Homo sapiens: one gene and its partners. The protein of the gene in region 1 interacts with the protein of each later gene in a pairwise test. Each region holds a gene or a part of one and is shown in the gene's direction. Other genes may lie near its edges. The genes, in order: ZNF20, CRACR2A and KRTAP4-2.

Evidence for each region.
Region 2: the proteins of ZNF20 (region 1) and CRACR2A interact in binary tests that used the Homo sapiens proteins (3 or more experiments, as listed by UniProt).
Region 3: the proteins of ZNF20 (region 1) and KRTAP4-2 interact in binary tests that used the Homo sapiens proteins (3 or more experiments, as listed by UniProt).

Annotation. Positions count from the first base shown.
Region 1 is NC_000019.10:12,138,484-12,142,233, reverse strand, and holds the start of ZNF20 (zinc finger protein 20), read left to right. Parts: upstream 1-1,883; 5' UTR 1,884-2,051; coding exon 2,052-2,054; intron 2,055-3,750. UniProt on the Homo sapiens protein: May be involved in transcriptional regulation.
Region 2 is NC_000012.12:3,751,082-3,754,831, reverse strand, and holds the start of CRACR2A (EF-hand calcium-binding domain-containing protein 4B), read left to right. Parts: upstream 1-1,722; 5' UTR 1,723-1,817; intron 1,818-3,750.
Region 3 is NC_000017.11:41,176,937-41,180,324, reverse strand, and holds KRTAP4-2 (keratin-associated protein 4-2), read left to right. Parts: upstream 1-2,103; 5' UTR 2,104-2,160; coding exon 2,161-2,571; 3' UTR 2,572-2,879; downstream 2,880-3,388. UniProt on the Homo sapiens protein: In the hair cortex, hair keratin intermediate filaments are embedded in an interfilamentous matrix, consisting of hair keratin-associated proteins (KRTAP), which are essential for the formation of a rigid and resistant hair shaft through their extensive disulfide bond cross-linking with abundant cysteine residues of hair keratins.

The DNA of each region.
Region 1 (3,750 bases):
AGAGAAAATGAAGATAGGTGTTGGTGACTGGCAGATTCTGGGTCTACGATGAATCAGAGAAGGATGGTTTTCACTTTGTTTTACATTTTTTTAATGCTTGATGTTGACTTGGTAGAAAGATGATAATAAAGAGATTCTTCTGTCTATGTGTTTCTTTTAGATTACTCATGTGGACTGAAGAAAAAAAATTAAATTTGTTAAAGAAAGTGAGTTTGATTTAGGATTGTGACTGAGGACAATAGCCTGGAAGCAGTTCTGACAGATGGCTGCTATGTAATATTTTGGTTCACAGTTTATAAGAGACATGTGGGCCCTGTGCTCTATCTTGTTTTTTCTTCAAAGCATAATTCTGGAGAGCTGGAGAGTCCCAGAGTCAGGAATGTTATAAAGTCAGGCTGGAAACCAGAAATAAGTAACATGACTAAACATTTGTGTGTTTTTTTGTTTTGTTTTGAGACAGAGTCTCGCTCTATTGCCCAGGCTGTAGTGCAGTGGTGCAATCTCGGCTCTCTGCAACCTCAGCCTCTTTGATACAAACGATTCTTCTGCCTCAGTCTCCCGAGTAGCTGGGATTACAGGTGGGCTCTACCACACCCGGCTAATTTTTGTATTTTTAGTAGAGACGGGATTTCACCATGTTGGTCACGCTGGTCTCCAACTCCTGATCTCAGGTGATCCAGCCACCTCGCCCTCCCAAAGTGCTGGGATTACAGGCTTGAGCCACAGCGCCCAGCCACTACTGCCTCACTTTCATGCAGTTAAATAATCTTGGACACTTCCTCCTCGACTTTATACATACACACTGGAGGAGAGCTTTGCTCGTGTGTTATTCTCGCAGTGGGATTGAGGATGTTTGTCTCATGGAAACTGATGAATGATGTGAGAAGCAGGTGAATAACCTGCAGGGGGCAGCAGAGACCGACGCCAGGGACGGGACGCTGAGGCTAGTATGGATCCTGCCAAGGAGTGAAGTGGAGTTCTGGGTGCTTCCTGGGCAGCCGCCCTCCCCTGCAGGTGGCTTGCAGCTGCTCAGAGCAGATCCAGAAAGAGTGTGGGTTCTGACATGCTGCAGCGCCCTGGAAAGCAGGAGACCCACGTGCAGGTGCACTTCAGGAGTTCTGTCCTTTCTGCGGCTGTACATCTGGAATCTGGGGCGGTTTTCGGGAGCAGTGTTTTGGGTTTGACATGCATAGAGTCCCTGGGGTCAGACTGTAATTTGCATATCTGAAGAAAATCCGTAAAGATCAAGTTCAGGGAAATAACTGTTTGGGACCTCTCCTGGAGAAGGGGCTTATGCAGTTGACAGTTTATTTAGGTCAGAAGCTTAAAATCACCAAGTGAGAGTTTTCTGCCGATGAAGATGAAGGTCTGGAAGGAGGGAGAGTTTCCACACTGTGAGGTGGGGTGAGATGTGTGAAAGCCTTGGCCATGTCTCATCCCTAATTCCGGGCCCCTGAAGGACAACTGCCTCTCCTTCTTGGTGCAGTCGTGCCTGGCCTGATCTGGGCTCCCCTTCCTGCTCTGAGGTCAGCACATCGCTCCATTGGACACTCAGTCTGGAATTCCCTGCACACACTTACAACCCTGTGCAGGACGAAGAAGCACTGACAGCCCATTGAATGAGGAAGAAGATAGTGCCCTGTGTAAAAATCAGGAGCAAATTTGGCTGAAAAGAAAATATCCAATGACCAGGGCTCAGGGAAGGAGTTGTCCCTTAGAGAGAAGCTGTGGCTAGAACCGATCAGTCCGGCTTTGCAGGGCTCGTTACCCAGGGCTTCTGCCGTCACTCAGTTCTGAGGGGGCGGGGCCTTGTACCTTGTCCAATCAGAAGCGCCGGGGCGGAGCCCGGCCAACGGTCCGTCCGGAAGGAGGAGGCCCATTCCAGCTTCTACTTTTGTTGCTATGCAGGTTGTTGTCGGGATACCAGATTTCCTACTCCGAGAGGCCCCGGGTCCCTCTGCCACAACTTCTGTCGCTCTGCCGCCTGCACCGTGACCCGCACTATTCACGGGAGCCCTAGAGAGGACACCGGGACACCCAGAAGCCGGGAAATGGTGAGTGTATGGGGCCGGAGTCCCCAGACGGGGGAGGGGCTGGGTGGAACCGGCCGGAAGCGGCTGTGGTGGGATCTGGGCCTCCTCGCCGCGCCTCCTGGATCTGGGACCCGAATCCCTCTGTCTCAGCTCGTCCCTGCGTCCCCTCGGCCGCAGGGTGCGGCTGGGCCGGCAGCCGGGACCCCGGGCGTCCTCCTGTTCTGTTCCTGCGCGGGCGACTGTGGGCCCCGACCCTGGAGCCCTCTCTGGGCAGCTCCGCGCCTGCAGCCCCGCGTCTCTTCAGATTTTGCGGGGACCACGGGAGGGTCATGGGGGAATCCTGCGGATTTTTTTTTCTGTTAAAGAGTTTGGGCCGGGCGCGGTGGACCATGCTTGTAATCCCAGCACTTTGGGAGGCCGAGGCTTGCGGATCACGAAGTCAGGAGATCGAGACCATCCAGGCTAACACAGTGAAACCCCGTCTCTACTAAAAATACAAAAAATTAGCCGGGCATGGTGGCATGCGCCTGTAGTCCCCGCTACTCAGGAGGCTGAAGCAGGAGAATCGCATGACCCCAGGAGACGAAGGTTGCAGTGAGCCGAGATCACGCCACTGCACTCCAACCTAGGGGACAGAGCGAGATTCCATCTCAAAAAAAAAAAAAAATTTAAAGAGTTTGAGCAAACAGCGATTCATGAGTGAGAAACGCCCAGTCATGATTTGTGGTTTTGGTACCAGAAAGTTTTAAGAAGAATTGCATTTTGTTAACGGTGGAGGGGGTCCAGGTTCTTGGCGTCTTGAACAAAGAATTGGACAAAACGCACAAAGCAAGGAAGGAATGAAGGGATTTAACACTCCACAGTGTGCAAGCGGGGCTGAGCACAGGGGCTCAAAGGCCCCGTTACAGAATTTTTGGGAGTTTAAATACCCCCTGGAGGATTCCATTGGTTACTTGGGGTATACTCTATGTAAAAGGAGAGGATGAAGTAAGGTTATAAAATCATTTACTTGGCTTACGCCCTATGGAGTAGGTATTTCCTTTCATAGCTGAAGTTTGAATAGGCCTTATGTTCCCTGCGTCCAGACCCTATTTTCCTGCCTCAATTTGAGTTTGATTTTGGTGTCCTTAGGTAGTTTCTTATAGCACTAAACACACTTCAGTCTAATTGCTGCTGCTTTAAATTTTTTCACACTGTCTATAGGGACTGGCTTCCTCCTGCATTTTCCTAATGTATGGGTCTCAAATCCTCCACCCTGCTACCCCGCCCTAACTCTTCAGCAGTTTGCAGTAACATCTTAAATTTTCAATTACTTTTCCGCATCTCCAAACATTAACTCCCCTTCTCCAACTCACAGTATTATCAACTTTCTTTTTTTTTTGAGACGGAGTTTCGCTCTTGTTGCCCAGGCTGGAATGCAATGGCATGATCTTGGCTCATTGCAACCTCTGCCTCCCGGGTTCAAGTGATTCTCCTGCCTCAGCCTCCTGTATCAACTTTCTTTATTGTAGAGTATATTTCTTCATCCTTTCTTTCACATAGATGCAGTATTTTAGTGGTTTATCATCTTTTCACAAGGTCATGGATAACTTTTTTTAAAATATTTGTGTTCTGTTTCTGAACATTTCACATAGAATAGAGAATAACCACTTGATACTCCAGTGAAAAACCTCTGTTCCTCTCCTCTTATCTTCGTAAGGCACAGACACCATCTCAG
Region 2 (3,750 bases), on another chromosome or scaffold:
TGGATGAGTCTCAGCCTTTCTGAGCCTCTGTTATTCCAACTGTGAAGTGATACAATTAACAATAACAAAAATTTGATAAGAGCAAATACATTTGGCATTTTTAATGAACCTACTACTATTCTAAGCCCTTTAAAGATACACATTTATTTCGATTCATAGAACACCCCATGATGCAGGAGCTGTTACTATCCACATTGTACTGATGGAGAAAGTTCCAGTAACTTGCCAAGGACGTAGCTGGCAAGTTGGAGCACTGAGATTCAAACCCAGGGCTTTGGCCTCCAGAGTCTGTGCACTAACCACTGTAATACCTCTGAGACTGTAAGGGGCAAATGAATGACAACGCATTGATTTAGAAGTGAAAGGCGATCTAAACGTGCAAGTATTAACACTATTAAAAACAACAATAACAATGGTAGGTACCTCCGATGCCTCTGACCTTATCTCTCTGGTCACAGTTTTCTGCTCTGTAAAATGGGTGGGCAGGCTTTACACTGGATAATCTCTGAGGCCCCTTCCACTTCTCAGATTCTGATAATGAAATGTCCTTCTTTCCTCACATAAGGCTGAGAGAAGGTCAAGCCACCAGCTTGCAGACCTTGGGAGTTGACACAGGGAAGCATACCCAGGACAGAGCCAGAAAAGCCAAGGCACGCAGTAGGGACACACCAGAGGGCAGGCCTCAGAGCCCCTGACAGCCTTCTGAAACTCTGGCAGGGTGGAGGGAGGTTGTGGGCTAGTGGCTGGCTGGGCTGCAAGGAGAAGAAAGGACTCCACAGAGTAATTTATAACAGCTGCTCAGTAAGTGCTAATTTGTTTCTCTCCACCTTGGAATAGGACTTAGCGCGTGTGAGAGGGGGATGCTACTACATAAACCAGTACCAGAAAGATGGGCTTGCCAGGAAAGAACTGGGGCACTCTGCAGGGGCAGTGTCTGGGGAAGGGTTCTCCAAAAAGGTGACATTTCAGAGGGGCCTGGATGGATGAGTAGGATTTCAACAGGCAGAGATGAAAGGGGAGGGTGTTCCAGGCAAAAAGAAGAACTCCCAGCAGCCATGAAGAACAGCTGGTGTTTGGCAACAGCTAGTGTGTCCAGAGCGAAAGTGTTGTGTGTGTGTGAGGGAGAGAGGGTGAGGCTGGAAAATTAGGTTGTGGCCGGAGAGGGCAGGGTGGGCCTTGCCTTGTGCGCTAAGCTGAGGGGTTATCCTGCAGCCGGAGCACCTCGGGAGGCCTTTGAAGATTTACTCAGTGCTTTATTAACAAATACGTATTGGGTTTTTGGTGTTTTGTTTTGTTTTTAACGATTCATGCCCACAGTAGAATATATAGAAGAGTCAGAAAAGTATAAAGAATAAGGATCCCCTTTAGTTTCTGCTCCCAGAGGTAACAGCCGGAGTGACGCCGGGCTGCTGCCGGGTTTTCGGGGGTGCACTCCCAGACACCACCTCTCCAGTGAGCCAGCGAGGGCCGGACTGATGCCCCACCTTGGGAGCCTGAATCGGGGCAAGGGGCCTAGGGAGCAGCGGGACCCCGGAAGCCCGACCAGTCAGGCCGGCTAAGTCGGCAGCCGCCCCGCCCTCGCCACCCAGCCTCCCTGGCGGCCTCAGGTCGCGCCTGCAGGCCCGGACCCCACCGCTTGGCGCGCGCACGTCCCGGAGGGCGTCCAGGGGGCGCCGCTTCCCGTTCAGCTCCGCTGAGGGGCTGGTCCAGCCCGCGCGGCTCGGAGCGGAAAGAGTCGGGCGGAGCAGGCGGCTGCTTGACAGCTGAGAGCCGAGCGGGCGGCGCGGGCAGGTCCACGGGAAGCCTACACGCCCAAGGTAACGTGGAGGAAGGTTGAGGGTGGGCGGCCGGGGCGGCCGGGGGGCGGCGCTTCCTGCCTGCTCCTCCGGCTGCGAAGTGTGAGCGCGTGTCTGCCGCACATGGAACTCGCAGAGGGCCTGGATGGAGGCTGTGTGCCCTTGGGGGGGAACAGCTGGCTCCCCTGCCACCCCCAGGCCTGGCCTGGCCCTTGCTCCCCTCCCTGTCACTCGGTAACGGGACTGGAGGAGAGCCGAGAAGCACTAGGGTTTTGGTCAGGAAAGGACCTTAGGAACCCTCCAGCCTCATCCAGCCTCTTCATTTCACAGATGAGGAAACTGAGGCTCAGAATGGTAAAGTGACTTGCCCAAGGTCTCAAGTCTAAGAACCAAAACTCCTACCTTGCAGGTCAGTGCTACTAGGAGCCCTGGCCACGCAGGCAGCATCCACAACTGTTGCCATGCCGAGAAACAAAGAACCGAGACAGACAGTCAGAAAGACACAGAGAGAGAACCTCCCAGAGCAAAGGAAGGAGGTCAGGAAGTGGGCGGCTGCTGGGGCTTGGCTTCCGCCCTGGCCCCCGCGTGTGCTGGCCTGGCTGTGTGGCTCAGAGGCGTTGTGCTGACTCTGTCCGTGTGTGTGTGTGTCCGTGTGTGTGTGTGTCTGTGTGTGTGTGTCCGTGTGTGTGTGTGTGTGTCCGTGTGTGTGCGAGTGTGTGTCTGTGCACCCATGCATGCACGGGATGCAGCGAATGTACCCTGCCACGTGGGAAAGCCCTCTGAGTTCATTTATCTGTTTACACAGTGTGCTTAGGAACCTGCCCTGTTTGGCTCTGTGGAGGACACCAGGAGTCTCAAAGGAATTCGTTCTGTGTGACTCAAGAGGACAGAAAGAGCCAATCCGTGGGAGTCCCCAGGGTGGTCAGAGGGTCAGGAGGAAGAACCTAACTCATGAGGTGATGGGTTCCTTGTCTCTGGAAGAAAGCAGCATGTACCGAAGAGTCTTTTTATCAAGGATGTGGGCATAGGGATATGAAATCAGAGCAGTTTGCTCCACGTGGAATCAGCATTTTTGTTGAAGGGTCCAGAGTTCATGCCCCTTTTCAGGTGAAATGAATATGTACAACCTCATGGTTTAGTATTTGCCCATAAGAGCTACTTCATGCGCAGTTTTTAAGTGATAAGTGAGAGGCTTCAGGTATGGCTTCCGAGGTCCTGTCACCTCTCGGTTCTATAAGTGAGAGGCTTCAGGTACGGCTTCCGAGGTCCTGTCACCTCTCGGTTCTATACTATAAAGTGTGTAGAGGGAGTTTGGAGGAGGGAGGTTACTTCTGGAAGGAGTGACTCGCAGAGGGCGTCCTGGATGTGGCACTGAGGCCGGGCCTTGAATAGGAGGCTGGGTCTGGGCATCTTGGGGAAGGACGGCTGAGCAAAGCCGTGAAGGTGGGTTGTACCTGAGGAGCAAGGAGTAATGTAGTGGACAATCCGGTGAGGAGTGCTGCCTGGGAGAGATGGCAGAGGCTTGGAGTGTTACGAGTCTAGAAACTTCATTATTAAGCCTAGGGATATTTTGATGGTTTCTAAGAAGGGAAGTGTTGTTCCTGGAGCTGGGTTCAGAAGAACATGTCATCTGCACCTGGGTATGGGATGTACTGCAGTGGAGGAAGCTGTGGGAAGAGAACCTGGGAAGAAGCCCATTGCAGTCACCATGAGGGGTTGAACAGGGCTGGTGGGAATGGACAGGAAGGGGCTAAAAGGCTTGGGGGTAGGGGAAAAGTCATCTGCCATGTGCCAGGGCCTGTGGTAGGAGATTTTCATGTTTAATCTCATTTAATCCTCCTGACAACCTCATGAGGAGATTGCTATGATTGTTCCATATTGTAGAGGAGGAAACTGAGAGAGAGGTTAGGTGGTTTATCCAAGGTCATACAGAAAATAAGTGGTGGGATGGGGA
Region 3 (3,388 bases), on another chromosome or scaffold:
ATGTACAGCATGGTCACTGTAGTTAATTACACTGTATTGTATATTTAAAATTTGCTGAAAGACTAGATCTAAAATGTTCTCACTACACACACTCAAAAAATGGTAACTATGTGAAGTGGTGGAGGTGAACTAATTTGATCATGACAATAATTTCACAATATATACATATCAGAGCATCAGGGTGTACACCTTATATACATACAATTTTATATTTCAATTATAGCTGAGTAGAGGTAGAAAAAATGAAATTGTTAAAGTACTAGAAGAAATCGTGAGAGATTCCTAAATATAATGTAAATTTATCTTAAGGAAAACACACACACACACACACACACTCACACACACTCACATCATGAAGAAAAATAGTTAATATAAAGTGATCTCTACTGAATCATCAGCAGGCACCAATCGTCACGGCTTCTCAAGGGCACGATTCTTTTCCAGAATACAAGGTCTCCTGGAAATCTTAGAGTTGTTCTCGTACACCACCATGGGGCTCACAGGGTCTTAATTCCACAGCATCATGGAACCCACTTTCATCCCTCAATAAAATATGATGTCTGGGTACATCAGAGCCAGAGAACAGTGCAGGCTCAGAACACCAGCCAGCGCACCAAGCAGGGGTTCACTTGGGAGCCCAAGTTGTTTTCATTCTGCTTGAATCACCTGGAAATTAGGGCCAGGGCAGGAGTAGGAACTGGCTTGGAACATAGCAGCATCATAAGAACACCACAATTTGATTTATTAGACTTATAAGCACCTGAGAGAAGAAAGGGAATCTCCCTCATTCATCCAATCCCCTCCATCTGGTTCTTGGATCTCCCTCAGAAACACCAGCTTACACTGAAACTCCTCCCCTGATTATCTGCAGAGGCTGCCCAGTTCATAAAACATTTCTATCATGGTAAGTCAGACATTTTTCCACCCCCTTCCCTGGGTTCCTTGACTCCTCAGGGGTGGGGAAATACATATATATTTATTAACTGATGAGTTAATGAATTGACAACATAGCACATTTTTGAAACAATAGTCAGCCATCCCTACATGAAAAAATATAGGCTGATATCCTTTGTTCTTGATACCTGTTTTCTGCTTTCTTTCTCTCTTTATTGATTTATTTTTTGAAAACAAAGATGTAAAGTGTGAAATTGGATCAACAACTTCTATAAGGAAGCAGCAGAGTATAGGACATCTTCAAGGCCCAGCAATTCAGCAGAGAAAGCAAGAGGGCTGGGAGCGAATTAGAGCAAGCAAAGGATACTGAGTCATCTAATTTGGGTTGGCCAGAAAATTTTGGAACCTGGAGAGATGAGCTCATGTGCCCTGTTAGAGCTAGGAAGGCAGAAAGGCAAAGTCACAAGGAAAATCTGCCCCAGGGAGCAAAAAAATGAGGGACTTGGACCTTTAAGTATAGCTGTTCTCTGAAGCCAACATTCCCCAAGAGGCCCTGAATCTGAATTTTGGAGGGTTGTTTCTGTAGAAAAGGAAACATCAAACTTTCACAGCTTAGTTTTCCACCTTAAAACAGCTCTGTATTTCTCATCAGAAGGTCTAGAAAATGGGTCACAATTCAGAGTGCGGAAGATAAAAAAGCGATAGGTCCTACGGTGTTCTCGTTCTCACACCAGTGGTCATCTGTTTCACACTGAAATCTGTTTCACACTGAAACCTTCACAGGCCATCTGACCCATAATGAAGGAGCCATCAGACTGAAATGCAGCTTTATCCTCCTGAGTCACCAGAAAGAGTCAAGGGCCTGTAAGAATAGTAATCACCCAAGAGTAGTCATGATGTGTTAAGCAAATGAGACTGAAGCACATAGTATGTGCTTACAGGCAGATGTCACATGGCTGCTCTAGGAGGAAGCTATAGTAAGAGAGACACAGGAGGTGGTTCAGGAAGAGCTGAGCTAAGGAGTCCTAACACATTAGGGAAAGGAGACAGTGTTTCCATCTATGTGGATAAGTTAACCAGAACAACAAACTTGCCTAATTTGATAATTGCCTACATATCAGGACAAATAATAACAAGGAAAGAGTGTTGCATCTGATGACATCAGGCCTTAGCAGGGTATAAAAGAGGATCTGGGGCAAGGAAACTTCCAAACCTTCCAAACCCACCTTCCTGGAAATCCACCCAGAACCTCCACCCTCTGACACCATGGTCAACTCCTGTTGTGGCTCTGTGTGCTCTGACCAGGGCTGTGGCCTAGAGAACTGCTGCCGTCCCAGCTGCTGCCAGACCACCTGCTGCAGGACCACCTGCTGCCGCCCCAGCTGCTGTGTGTCCAGCTGCTGCAGACCGCAGTGCTGCCAGTCTGTGTGCTGCCAGCCCACCTGCTGCAGCCCCAGCTGCTGCCAGACCACTTGCTGCAGGACCACCTGCTGCCGTCCCAGCTGCTGTGTGTCCAGCTGCTTCAGACCCCAGTGCTGCCAGTCTGTGTACTGCCAGCCCACCTGCTGCCGCCCCAGCTGTGGCCAGACCACCTGCTGCAGGACCACCTGCTACCGCCCCAGCTGCTGTGTGTCCACCTGCTGCCGCCCAACCTGCTCTAGTGGCTCTTGCTGCTGATGCCCTCACCTATACTCACCTGCCTTTATTAACCAGCATTCTTGATATGATCCACCTGTGAACTGAATCATGCAAGGCCAATTGGACAACCTCAGTTCCAACCAATTCTTGGATTGAGTTTGGCCTCCAAATATGCTCACCAAACACTATGTTGCTACCCTCTACCAAATGAATACAAGTTTGAATTTTCTCTGAAATATGTCAACCCCATGTTCCCTGAATTGAAATATTTGCTCTCTACCATAATTTATCACATGGAGCTATTCCTCTATCTTAAATAAATTTTAATTTTTGAGGCATACAAATAATATACGGGCATTGTGTCTCATTTTTCCTTCTTGAATTCTCATCCTTACCTGTCAAATTTTCTGATGTTCTTCCCTGCAGAGGGAGAAGACCACAGCAGATGATATCAGGGGCTCCACCTCTATCCTATCAGCACTCTCCATTCAAACATAGGAAAATGGTTCCTTAGAGCAGGCACCTGGAACTCTCTACCTGAGGACTTTCTCTGGATAAAGGAGCAAACTCTGGGCTGGAGACTTAAAGCCTCTAGGAACAGCACTCAGAGAATGAGTGGGAGTTGGTAATATATGCCCTGGCTTGTTTCCCTCCAGTGGGGGGTATGTCAAACCAGTCTTCCAGAGGTCTTCAGCGGGATTTATACCAGATGCCTGCAGGAACATTCTGATCATGAACTCACTCTATAATGACTTTCCCTCCTTCCCAGGGTCATTCTTCAAGTTTCCTCCAGTGTTTCTTGGGTTAATCGTCCAAATATACCACATGTTCTCAGATCCTCTTTTGTGGGTTTGCC